Regions from separate parts of the Homo sapiens genome. Here regions 2 and 3 are each linked to region 1. Evidence: fine-mapped expression QTL. A gene starts in region 1. Each other region holds a variant in brackets. All regions are shown on one strand. Distances are from middle to middle. Region 1 holds the start of CD96 (CD96 molecule). Region 2 overlaps CD96 (CD96 molecule). Region 3 overlaps CD96 (CD96 molecule).

What was found. PIP is the estimated chance that this variant, and not a neighbour inherited with it, causes the effect. A credible set is the group of variants that fine-mapping cannot tell apart.
Region 2: its variant is the best candidate, but not a certain one, in a credible set for the expression of CD96 in whole blood (INTERVAL, PIP 0.86).
Region 3: its variant is the best candidate, but not a certain one, in a credible set for the expression of CD96 in whole blood (INTERVAL, PIP 0.74).

Annotation. Positions count from the first base shown.
Region 1 is chr3:111,540,122-111,544,373 of GRCh38, forward strand. It overlaps CD96 (CD96 molecule), which reads left to right and starts at 2,076. Exons shown (of 14, transcript NM_005816.5): 1 at 2,076-2,188. The coding sequence starts at 2,128. LOC105374039 (a long non-coding RNA gene) reads left to right here. Exons shown (of 3, transcript XR_001740846.1): 3 at 1,814-1,882.
Region 2 is chr3:111,640,945-111,645,196 of GRCh38, forward strand. All of the region lies in intron 12 of CD96 (CD96 molecule), which reads left to right. Among named protein-coding and RNA genes, the nearest start is that of PLCXD2, 32 kb to the right of the region's middle. The variant A/T (reference allele first, on the strand shown) is at 1,868.
Region 3 is chr3:111,645,959-111,650,210 of GRCh38, forward strand. It overlaps CD96 (CD96 molecule), which reads left to right. Exons shown (of 14, transcript NM_005816.5): 13 at 1,585-1,708; 14 at 3,740-4,252. The coding sequence ends at 3,848. Among named protein-coding and RNA genes, the nearest start is that of PLCXD2, 27 kb to the right of the region's middle. The variant CT/C (reference allele first, on the strand shown) is at 2,134.

The sequences.
Region 1 (4,252 bases):
ATACACAGAAGACAGATTTGCCGTATAGCCACTAAATGCATGGCTCAGGTAGCCCAACCCCAATGAGAGGCAAGAATTCTACTGAAAGTAAGTCTGTAGCACTGGAAAATAAACGACCATTTCCATGTTTCTGAGTTTACAGACTTTTTTGGAACAACTGTTTCACTTTAATACAATAAAAGATAGGAGAAGTCTAAATACCCCAAAGAGGGTATTGTTCTTAGAGAATTCAATAAATGTATATTTGAATTGGTTTCTACTTAGGTAAATTCCTCTTAATATGAAAAATGGAACGAGATCATAGAATCCCTTCTCCAGGCTTGTAATGTGTCCTGATTTAATAGGGACACCAACGTGCAAATCAGGATCTTCATAGTGCATCTCCAGGACTATTTTTGCTGCTATGCTTCATAAAACTTTGATTTACTAGAATTTCCAGGGGCAATGGGAAGAGATGAAGCTACCCAGAGCAGTTATGTCTCTTCCTGACCTTCTATAAAGGACTTTGAGTTCCCAGGCCTTCCCTGGAAAATCACTGTCAGTACTACCTGACCCAATATCCCCAGTGACCTGAAACTCATGGGAAGTTGGGAAGGGGTGATAATAAAGGTTTGGGGAGCACTGGACTAGGCAAGCAGTAACTACATCTAAATTCTGCAAGAAATCATTAGCTGAGGAATACTGAATAAGTATGGCAATTATCATGGCAAGTATTTGCAGTGGTGGTATAGGGGGTGATCTGGACGTCCAGGAAGACAGTCGCCCTTGTTTATTTACATGAAAACCTCTCTTCTCCCATCTAAATTTAATCTCCTGAATGGCAAAAGCATTTCCTTCTGTCTTAGCATCGTCCATATTCACCACGAGTCCTTGCATAGGAGAGATTGGTGTATACATGATGACAACCTGACGAAAATTATCTCCACCTCACCTGAAAAGAATTCCCATCTCAGGATTACAACTGGCCTTTTCATTTGTCTTTGGTCTTGCTAGGTGGTACGTATATTCTAGTAATGAGATTAGGGTCACAGGATATTTTAATCATTCATACGGTTGTATGAAGACACACATGTTTATTTGTAGTTATTCTTTGTCCATCAAACTTACAGTAGTCCTCAGTCTAATGCTTGTTTTCTTAATGTTGGAGGGTGATGACAGCCTATTTTATCTCAGGCTGAAAAACTAATACAATTAAATCAGAGAATCATAGCAGGGAACAGTCATCGTGTTCTACGAATAGCCAGACATTTTTACCAAGGGGTCACTTTCCTGAAACCTGTTTGCGGTTCTCTGTAAATAGAAGTAACTAGGCAGATGTAATAAGCCTAATAGCTCACTGAGGTGGGAATTCTCTGCCTTTGGATTCTGATTGTTACTGCCTTGCTTTGGCTTAGGCATGGATAAACTCTTCTGTGGTGAACAAAAATGGCCTCCAGCCAACCTGGTGGGAGACTTCCCTATCTGACCTCCAACCTTCCCTCGTCTTCCCAGACGAGGGGTAGAAAAGTAGCCCTCACTCCTCCACTCCCAGGAAATGTGCATTTCCCTGCAAGAGGAGAGACAATAAAATTTGGTTTGATAGCTGACACTATTCCCTGTTACTTTTCAGATTTTATTAAAATTAAATGTGTTAATTCTTTGTTCTTTCACCCCAGGGCAATTCTGGAAAGAAAACATATCTTAAGATTGAACAGAAAAACTATTATGAAAAACACCAAGCTCACATTTGTTAAATGACTTTGTGCTCTTGAAAAAAATGTATAAAAAGCACATTGCCAACTGCTCTGCGTGATATCCTTTGTTTGGATTTTAGACGCAGCTTGACTGACACAGAGATCCTGAATAAGAGACTCTTTGGATACTGAAAAGTCTCTTAAATAAGGTGATACACAAATTTCAGAGAACAATTTCAACATTGTTCTGTCGAACGTTATACTCAGTCCTGAACCACATTACTTTCCTGTCTACGTTTCATTTCCTGGGGGCTTGCCAAGTGATAAACAGACCCAGGCGTGTGTGGTAGAGTTCGGGTTTTTTAGCACGAAGTGGGTGGCTGGAGTTTGCTTGAAAACATCAATTGACTTTGTGATCATTACAGAAATGCTGGTGTAAGGTGTTCAGAAGACAATGGAGAAAAAATGGAAATACTGTGCTGTCTATTACATCATCCAGATACATTTTGTCAAGGGTAAGACTTCCAGTTGTCCCTTCTTGTCGGATGGGCCGCTTTAGGGGCGGATGGGGCCTCTGTTCATTTAAAATGCCTTGTGACTGCTGCTGAAATTGATCACCAAAGGACAAATCATTACTAAGGGTTTCAGTTATGTATTTAAGCGGCAGGTATAAGAGAGATGCTAGAATCTAGAAATGATTACTAATGAACACTAAAAATAAGAAGGGAATGGGTCATTTGTGCCACTGCTCTGAGGCATTTTCACCCATTTCCTTTCTAACAGGATCTCTGGAGTAATTGGCAAATTGTGTTTCTTGGAAATGAAATGCTCTCCAAATGGTAGCCAAAACAACTGCGGAAAAATTAAAAATTACAAAGCCATCAACGCTCAGAGATCCTTGTTTAACTTTTTTCTCTCTCAAGTACTCTCTTTCTTTTGGATATAACAAGTATTTCTCATCCAAATACTAAGGTCTTTGGGAGTTGAAAACACGTTGAATTTTAATGAGGCATGTGTAGGTATGAACCTGGGAGACAAAGTGGAATCCTTATGACAGTGGGAACGAGAGCCTAATGGGCCTATTTAAAAAGAGAAGGAAGCAAGATTAGTTCTGTATTCCACAGTATGAGAGTATCATAGTAAGCCTGAGTGTCTTAAGAATTAACTGTGCTTTTCAGACATAGCTATGAAAATATTAAGGAGAATTTCTAAATCAAAAGAGATTTGGAATATAATGCTGTAGATAGGATCAGAGCCATATTTTCAGGCAAAGGATAGCTCACAGGAAGTTACATTAAACTGTACTAACCTCTGCCTACCAAACTTTTGCATCCACAGAAGTATGATAATTCCCATTTGTCAAGTACTTTTACTTTTAAGAGGCTTGTTTCTTCTCAGTTGCTTGTCATCTTTTTATCTTTTCCTTTTGTGAGCTTCAGTGGTACTTGTCACAATAATATATATCATTTCTGTAACAGGATTCCATGTTAATTCTAAAACTGAGGCCAACACTATTGAAGGCATGTCACAGTCTCAATGCTTAACACATTTTAAGTGTCCTGTATCACTCAGTCAGACTGCTGATGGGAAAGAGACTCTACTTATGTCTAGTATTTCAGACCATCGATTAGAGGTGATACTAAGTGGAACCTCTACCTAAGGTTAGATGAGGTCCTTTCAATCCTTGTATATTGAAAGTGAAATTTCTTACTCTAATCAACTAGACTGAATTTGGGAGACAGTTTGGAAGTTATGTGGAAGGAAAATAAAATAAAATAAGTAATAATAAAGTTTAAAATAATAAGCATAACATAGGTAATAGTTAACATTAAGTATAGGTTACTTAGAAGTTATATGTAGGCTAAGAAATTTAAGTAGCCCCTCCCAGCATTGCTAACAAGTTGCAGCTGTGAGCTTATCTCAACCTTCCAAGCTTCTTGCCTGCCCCCAGACCCCCACATATTTCTGTAACTCCTGTTTTACCTTACCCCATCTCTGTCTAGCTTCAAGATTGACTGGTTAAGATAACTAAATTGTAAGTTTTCTCAGAATTGTCACGGGTTAAATAATTTACTGTCTTTGCCTGAAACCTGTATCCTGCCTTGTTTTCCCACCTCAAACGACATATAAGCAAGCCTGCTTTCTTTGTCAGAGTCAGCAGCCATTTTGGGCATGAGTCTGCTGTGGGCCTGGATGCCTGAATTAAATAAAGTTCTCTTTGGTCTCTAAAGGTCTCTTTGTCTTCCTTGGCTGGAGTTTTACTGTTATACTTATGAGGGTTATAGAAAGACCACAGACTCTGGGCAACTGAATTCATTCTTTTACTGGAGGTGTGACTTTTTTTGTTTTGTTTCGTTTTTCGTTTTTTTGAGATGGAGTCTCACTCTGTTGCCAGGCTGGAGTGCAGTGGCATGATTTCGGCTCACTGTAATCTCCGCCTCCCAGGTTCAAGCGATTCTCCTGCTTCAGCCTCCCAAGTAGCTGGGACTACAGGCGTGCACCACCACGCCCAGCTAATTTTTGTATTTTTAGTAGAGACGGGGTTTTGCCGTGTTGGCCAGGATGGTCTGGTTCTCTTG
Region 2 (4,252 bases), 100 kb after region 1:
ATTTTACCAAACCACCACTACAGGAACTGCTAAAAGGAGCTCTAAATCTTGAAACAAATCCTGGAAACACATCAAAATGAACCTGTTTATGCATAAATCACACAGGACCTATGAAACAAAAATACAAGTTAAAAAGCAAAAACAAAAATCCAAAGTACACAGATAACAAAGAGCAAGATGAAAGCAATGGTACCTCATATTTCAATACTAATACTGAATGTAAATGGCCTAAATGTTCCACTTAATAGATACAGAACAGCAGAATGGATAAGAACTTACCCATCAACTATTTGCTGCCTTCGGGAGACTCACCTAACACATAAGGACTCATATAAACTTAAAGTAAAGGGGTGGAAAAAGGCATTTCATGCCAATGGACACCAAAAGCGAGCAGGGGTAGCTATTCTCATATCAGACAAAACAAACTTTAAAGCAACAGTGGTTAAAAAAGACAAAGAGGACAGTATATAATGGTAAAAGGCCTTGTCTAACAGGAAAATATCACAATTCTAAACATACATCCACCTAATATTGGAGCTCCCAAATTTATAAAACAATTACTAATAGACCTAAGAAATGAGATAGACAGCAACAAAATAATAGTGGGGGACTTCAATACTCCACTGACAACACTAGACAGGTCATCAAAACCAAAAATCAACAAAGAAACAATGGATTTAAACTATACCTTGAAACAAATGGACTTAACAGATATATACAGAACATTTCATCCAACAACTGCCGAATACACACTCTATTCAACAGTGCATGGAACTTTCTCCAAGATAGACCATATGATAGGCCATAAAATGAGCTTCAATAAATTTAAGAAAACTGAAATTATATCAAGCACTCTCTCAGACCACAGTGAAATAAAACTGGAAATCAACTCCAGAAGGAACCTTCAAAACCACGCAAATACACGAAAATTAAATAACCTGCTCCTGAATGAGCATTGGGTCAAAAATGAAATCAAGATGGAAATTTAAAAATTCTTCGAACTGAATGACAGTAATGACACAACCTATCGAACCTCTGGGATACAGCAAAGGTGGTGCTAAGAGGAAAGTTCACAGCCCTAAACACCTACAACAAAAATCTGAAAGAGTGCAAACAGACAATCTAAGGTCACACCTCAAGGAACTAGAGAAACAAGAACAAACTGAACCGAAATCCATCAGTAGAAAGGAAATAGCCAAGATCAGAGCACAATACAATTGAAACAACAACAACAAAAATGCAAAAGATAAATGAAACAAAAACTAGTTCTTTGAAAAGGTAAATAAAATTGAAAGACCATTAGTGAGATTAACCAAGAAAAGAAGAGAGAAAATCCAAATAACCTAATTAAGAAATGAAATGGGAGATATTACAACTGACACCACAGAAATACAGAAGATCATTCAAGGCTATTGTGAACCCCTTTATGCACATAAACTAGAAAACCTAGAAGAGATGGATAAATTTCTGGAAAAATACAACCCACCCAGCTTAAATCAGGAAAAATTAGATACCCTAAACAGACCAATAAGAAGCAGCGAGATTGAAATGGCAATTTAAAAATTACCAACAAGGGCTGAGCGCAGTGGCTCAGTGGCTCATGCCTGTAATCCCAGCACTTTGGGAGGCTGAAGCCAGTGGATCATGAGGTCAAGAGTTCACGACCCGCCTGGCCAAGACAGTGAAAACCCGTCTCTACTAAAAATACAAAAATCAGCCAGGTATGGTGGCAGGCGCCTATAATCCCAGCTACTTGGGAGGCTGAGGTGGGAGATTTGCTTGAGTCTGGGTGGCAGAGGTTGCAGTGAGCAGAGATTGTGCCATTGCACTCCAGCCTGGGTGACAAACTGAGACTCCGCCTAAAAAA[A/T]AAATAAATAAATAAAAGAAAAATTACCGACAAAACAAAGTCCAGGCCCAGATGGATTAACAGCAGAATTCTACCAGACATTCAAAAAAGAATTGGTACCAATCCTATTGACACTATCCACAAGATAGAGAAAGAAGGAATCCTCCCTAATTCATTCTGTGAAGCCAGCATCACCCTAACACCAAAACCAGGAAAGGACATAACCAAAAAAGAAAACTACAGACCTATATCCTTGCTGAACATAGATGCCAAAATCCTTAAAAAAAAAAAAAAAAAAAACTAGCTAACCAAATTCAACAACATATCAAAAGGATAATCCACCTTGATCAAGTGAGTTTCATACCAGGGATGCAGGGATGGTTTAACATACACAAGCCGATAAATGTGATACACCACATAAACAGAATTAAAAACAAAAATCACATGATCATCTCAATTGATACAAAAAAAAATTCAACAAAATCCAACATCCCTTTATGATTAAAACTCAGCAAAATTGGCACACAAGGGACATACCTTAATGTAATAAAAACCATCTATGACAAACCCACAGCCAACACAATACTGAATGGGGAAAAGATGAAAGCATTCCCTCTTAGAACTAGGGCAAAACAAGAATGCCCACTCTCACCACTCCTCTTCAATGTAGTACTGGAAGTCCTAGCCAAAGCAATCAGACAAGAGAAAGAAATAAAGGGCATCTAAATCAGTAAAGAGGAAGTCAAACTGTCACTGTTTGCTGATGATGACTGTTTACCTTGAAAACCCTAAGGACTCCTCTAGAAAGCTCCTAGAACTGATAAAAGAATTCAGCAAAGTTTCCGAATACAAGATTAATGTACACAAATCAGTAGCTCATCTATACACCAACAGCAACCAAGCAGAGAATCAAATCAAGAACTCAACCCCTTTTACAATAGCTGCAAAAAAAAAAAAAAAAATGAAATACTTAGGAATATCCTAACAAAGGAGTCTAAATTCCTCTAAAAGAAAAACTACAAAACACTGCTGAGATAAATCATAGATGACACAAACAAATGGAAACACATCCCATGCTCATGGATGGGTATAATCAATATTGTGAAAATTACCATACTGCCAAAAGCAATTTAGAAATTCAATGCAATACCCATCAGAATACCACCATCATTCTTTGCAGAATTAGAAAAAACAATCCTAAAATTCATATGGAACCAAAAAAGAGCCCACATAACCAAAGCAAGACTAAGCAAAAAGAACAAATCTGGAGGCATCACATACCTGATTTCCAACTATACTATAAAGCCATAGTCATCAAAACAGCATGCTACTGGTATAAAATACGCACATAGACCAATGGAACAGAATAAGCCCAAATACTTACAGCCAACTGATCTTCAACAAAGCAAACAAAAACATAAAGTGGGGAAAGGACACCCTTTTCAATAAATGGTGCTGGGATAATTGTCTAGCCACATGTAGGAGAATTAAACTGGATCCTCATCTTATACAAAAATCAACTCAAGATGGATTAAGGATTTAAACCTAAGACCTGAAACTAAAAATTCTAAAAGATAACATTGGAAAAATTCTTCTAGACATGAGCTCAGGCAAGGATTTCATGACCAAGAACCCAAAAAGAAATGCAATAAAAACAAAGATAAATAGCAAGCACCCAAAAGCAAATGCAATAAAAACAAAGATAAAAAGCAAATGCAATAAAAACAAAGATAATTAAACTAAAGAGCTTTTCCACAGCAAAAGGAACAGTCAGCAGAGTAAACAGATGACCCAGAGAGTGAGAGAAAACCTTCACAATCTATACTTCTGACAAAGAACTACTATCCAGAATCTACAACTAACTCAAACAAATTAGTAAGAAAAAAACAAACAACCCTATCAAAAAGTGGGCTAAGGACATGAATAGACAATTCTCAAAAGAAGATATACAAATGGCTAACAAACATATGAAAAAATGCTCAACATCACTAATAATCAGGGAAATGCAAATCAAAATGACAATGCGATACCACCTTAGTCCTGTAAGAATGGCCATAATCAAAAAAAATGGTAGATGTTGGCATGGATGTGGTGAACAGAGAACGCTTCTACCCTGCTAGTGGGAATGTAAACTAGTACAGCCACTATAGAAAACAGTGTGAAGATTCCTTAAAGAACTAAAAGTAGAGCCATCATTTGATCCAGCAATCCCACTACTGGATATCTGCCCAGAGGAAAAGAAGTCATTATTCGAAAAAGATACTTGCACATGTATGTTTATAGCAGCACAATTCACAATTACAAAATCGTGGAACCAACCCAAATGCCCATCAATCAATGAGTGGATAAAGAAACCGTGGTGTATATATATATATATGCACTATGGAATACTACATAGCCATAAAA
Region 3 (4,252 bases), 110 kb after region 1:
ATCTAGTTCTTTGACCTGTATTTTTTGAGATTTTGCTATATGAAAAGCAGTGTAATAAAAACGGGGCAATGAAATAAATTTAAATCCTTGTCTTCACTCACAAGCAGTTACTACCTAGCCGAGACAAGGAAAGAAAACCAATCCAGATAGCTTTTTGCCCAAATGATCCATGTAATCGAAATACCTAAAGACCTATCTATCATGTATAAGAAATTTCACTGGAGTATCATTAGCAATAACAAAGTCTGGAAACAATTTAACCATCTAACATCGTGAGATAAATTAAATAAACTGGTATATCCATTGAACTATCCAGTCATCTAATAGAATGAGGTAAATCTCTGTGTGGTGATATGGAAAGTATTCCAAGAATGTTTTTTAAGAAAAAGAGGCCAGGTGTATGTCTTTTGGCCTCTTATTCTTAAAAAAACATGTAAAATGTAAAATGTTAAAAATGTAAAATGATTTTTACCTTCTTAGGATACTTTAAAAGCTCAAAATCACTAATCACTAGAGAAATGCAAATTAAAACCACGATAAGATACCATCTCACATAAGTTAGAATGGCTATTACTGAAAAGTAAAAAAAAAAAAAGAAGAAGAAACTGATGCAGGTGAGGATGTGGAGAAAAGGGAATGCTTATACACTGCCGGTGGGAATGTAAATTAGTTCAGCCATTGTGGAAAGCAGTTTGGCTATTGCTCAAAGAACTTAAAAAAAAAATTACTATTTGATCCAGCAATCTCATTATATTGGATATATACCCAAAGGAATATAAATTGTTCTACCATAAAGACACATGGACACGTATGTTTATCACAGCACTATTCACAAAAGCAAAGACATGGAACTAACCTAAACACCCATCCACAGTGACTGGATAAAGAAAACGTGGTACATATACACCATGGAATACTATGAAACCATAAAAAGGAATGAGATAATATTCTTTGCAGCAGCATGGATGGAACTGGAGACCATTATCCTAAGCAAACTCACACAGGAATAGAAAACCATCTACAGCATGTTCTCACTATTAAGTGGGAACTAAACATCGAGTACATATGGACACAAAGACAAGAACAACAAACACTGAGGCCTACTGAAGGTTGAGAGGAGGGTAAAGATTAAAAAAAAAAAAAAAAAAAAACCCTACCTGTCAGGCACTGTTGATTACCTGGGTGACAAAATAATCTGTACACCAAAATCCCCACAGCACATAATTTACCTATATAACAAATTTGCACATGTACCCCTGAACCTAAAATAGTGAAAAAAAAGAAAAAGAAATCATGGACAGAATAGTGTGTATAATATGCCCCCAACTGTAATAAAAAGGGTATATATTCATGGTACATATGTATGCTTATATATATCCACAGAAAATTTCTGGTAGGGTACGTAATTAACTCTTAAAAGTTATCACCTCATGTAGGTAACAAGGCTTAGACATGCCCACCTCCAGAGTATGATCACAGCCAATGTTGAAGAAAATATGTTTCACGTAGGAAAAATGGTTTAATCCTGTTTTCCAAATGCCAAAGTTTGGGATTAAAGTTCATCTTTCTTTATGCCCTTTTCAGGTATTGTGGTCAATAAGCCCAAAGATGGAATGTCCTGGCCAGTGATTGTAGCAGCTTTACTCTTTTGCTGCATGATATTGTTTGGTCTTGGAGTGAGAAAATGGTGTCAGTACCAAAAAGAAATGTGAGTATAATACTAACATATGTAGGAACAGATTAATTTTTCATTATAAAATATTCATCAGTACAATATATTATTACTCTATGAAGTTCCTCCCATATTTTAATGGGGAAATAATGCTCACAGAAGCTCAGAGAGATTATATAGCTTTCCCAGCATTACATAGTTGGGATTAAATACACAACTCCTGACTCAGTATCCCTCTCTGCATTGGCCTAGTCAGGCTGTAACATTCGTCAGATAGAGCAAGTCCGTGGACATGAAATGAGAACTGAGCCTCACCTCTCCTCAAAACTAAAACTGATTTTTCTTTTAATCTTCATTATTTTTTCATTTTCATGCATCTTTGAACTGCCTAGGCTCCACTGGTCATAGATGCTCAAGTGTGAAATTGAGTGAGAAAGGTAATTTTAAGAGATTTCCAGCTG[CT/C]TTTTTTACCAGAGTGGGCTTTTACTGCCCTTTTCTTTTTTTCCCAAGCAGAAAAGAAAGTAAGCATTGGGTTACCCCATTTTTGTCTTATTGAAATATTTTCCAAAAGCCTTCTCCAATCGGCAGTCTGAAATGGTACATAAGGTTAAGCCTCATTTTTCTGACTTGCTATTTTGAGTCAGTCTGGGTTGGGCCATAACTGGAAGGGACCCCAGTACCCAGAACTGATCTTCCACTTGTCTTACTACTACTCTAAGATAACATTAACCATTGTGCCATATACTTTCCTACCTTTTGCAGAGTATCCTTGAAGACTCTGTAACCACATACAGGGAGTGGTGAACAAAACACTAAACCAGTAGTTAGAAATTCTGGATTATTTTCCAAGGACTACAATTTGGCCACCACATGACCTTGAGAAACTCATAATTCCCCAAAAAACAAAAGTAAAACAAAAGTGCATGTTTCGTAGAATTACCTATTAATACATATGAAGTCTCCATTAAAGCATCTAAAAATTGGGTAATAGGGATTAGAGAGCTTTATATTAAATGAACAAATGAAATCTGAAAATCTGAACTGATTTTTTAAATTGTTCTGTATTCAAATGTTTGTTTTATATGGAGATGAGAATCAATCTCTCTATCCTCCTTCCCCCACTACCCACTCTTTATCTCTCCTAAGATGCTATGGATTGCCAGGGCATAGAGGTGTTTGAGTGATGAACATAAAGATGTTCACAGATATATTTCTGTTGCCTGATATCAAGATAGCTAGAGCATTTGTATAGCTAAATTCCATACTAACTTGGCTCTTTAATGCATTTCGGAAAAAGAGATTACTTGTACTAACATAAAATAGTTCTTTGTACAAAGATGACTTTAAGAATGTTCACTGATTCAAACAAAAGGGATTTAGGCATTATCTAGCCAGTACTCGGGGATTGAGAAGAGCTTTACTTCCCATCTCTACCCTATCCCCGCAGTACATAGTGAGTGTTTGGGCAAAGGCTGGGGCTAGGGTTAGCAAAGAGGCTGTATGAAAAGCTTCAGTCTTAAATCCTAGGATTTTAAGATTTAGTCTCTGGAGGAATATTTTAATCCACATAAAAGAAACATTTCTTCTATTAGGAGGCAGTTGTCATGGAGAGTATCAGTTCTGGTGAAAAGACTTGAATTGTTGGTCTGGTTCTCTTGAGCAAGTTGTTTAAAACCTCTGAGCCTCAGTTTTATCTGTAGAATGGTGATGCATTTCCTGCACACAAAGTAAATAATGTTATGATACATTTCCTGCACACAAAGTAAATAATGTTATGATAAAAATGCTCAGTTTTATCTGTAGATGGTGAGGCAATTTCTACATACAAAGTAAATAATGTTATGATAAAAATTCTTTGCAAACTACAAAATACCGTATAGATCATGAGGTTCAAATGTGACTAACAGGCACAGGGTTATGCCAGCAAAAATGCTGAAAGAACTGGGAGAGTATGTCTCTTTCTCATCAATCTGTGTTCTCCTTTAAAGAAACAACACATGTCTGTGTGTGTGTGTGCATAAGACTCCCTCAATTCTTAGCATTGAAAGACCAATATTTTGTTCCTAGAATGGAAAGACCTCCACCTTTCAAGCCACCACCACCTCCCATCAAGTACACTTGCATTCAAGAGCCCAACGAAAGTGATCTGCCTTATCATGAGATGGAGACCCTCTAGTCTCGTGAGACTTTGCCCCATGGCAGAACTCTGCTGGAATCCTATTGAGAAGGTAGACATTGTGCTTTATTAATATAGTCGCTCTTCAGCCATGCCTTTGCTGCAGCTGAAATGGAAGTCAGAAGTGAGTGACCTGTTTTCCCAGCAACTCACCCTCTTCCATCTCCAAACGCCTGAAGCTTAACCAAGAGTGAGAGGATATGTCATGTTCACACTCAATGCAATTCGTAGTGGTTTTCTTGCTTATGTAAGAAGTACATATTAGTCTGCCATCTTTAAAAAAAAATACAGTATTTTCATTTAAATTCTCTGATGGAGGGACAACAATGGTTTCAACTGTATGCCCATGCCTGATCCTCTTATTTGAACATCTATCAACATTGTAAACTCTTTGCCAAAATCCT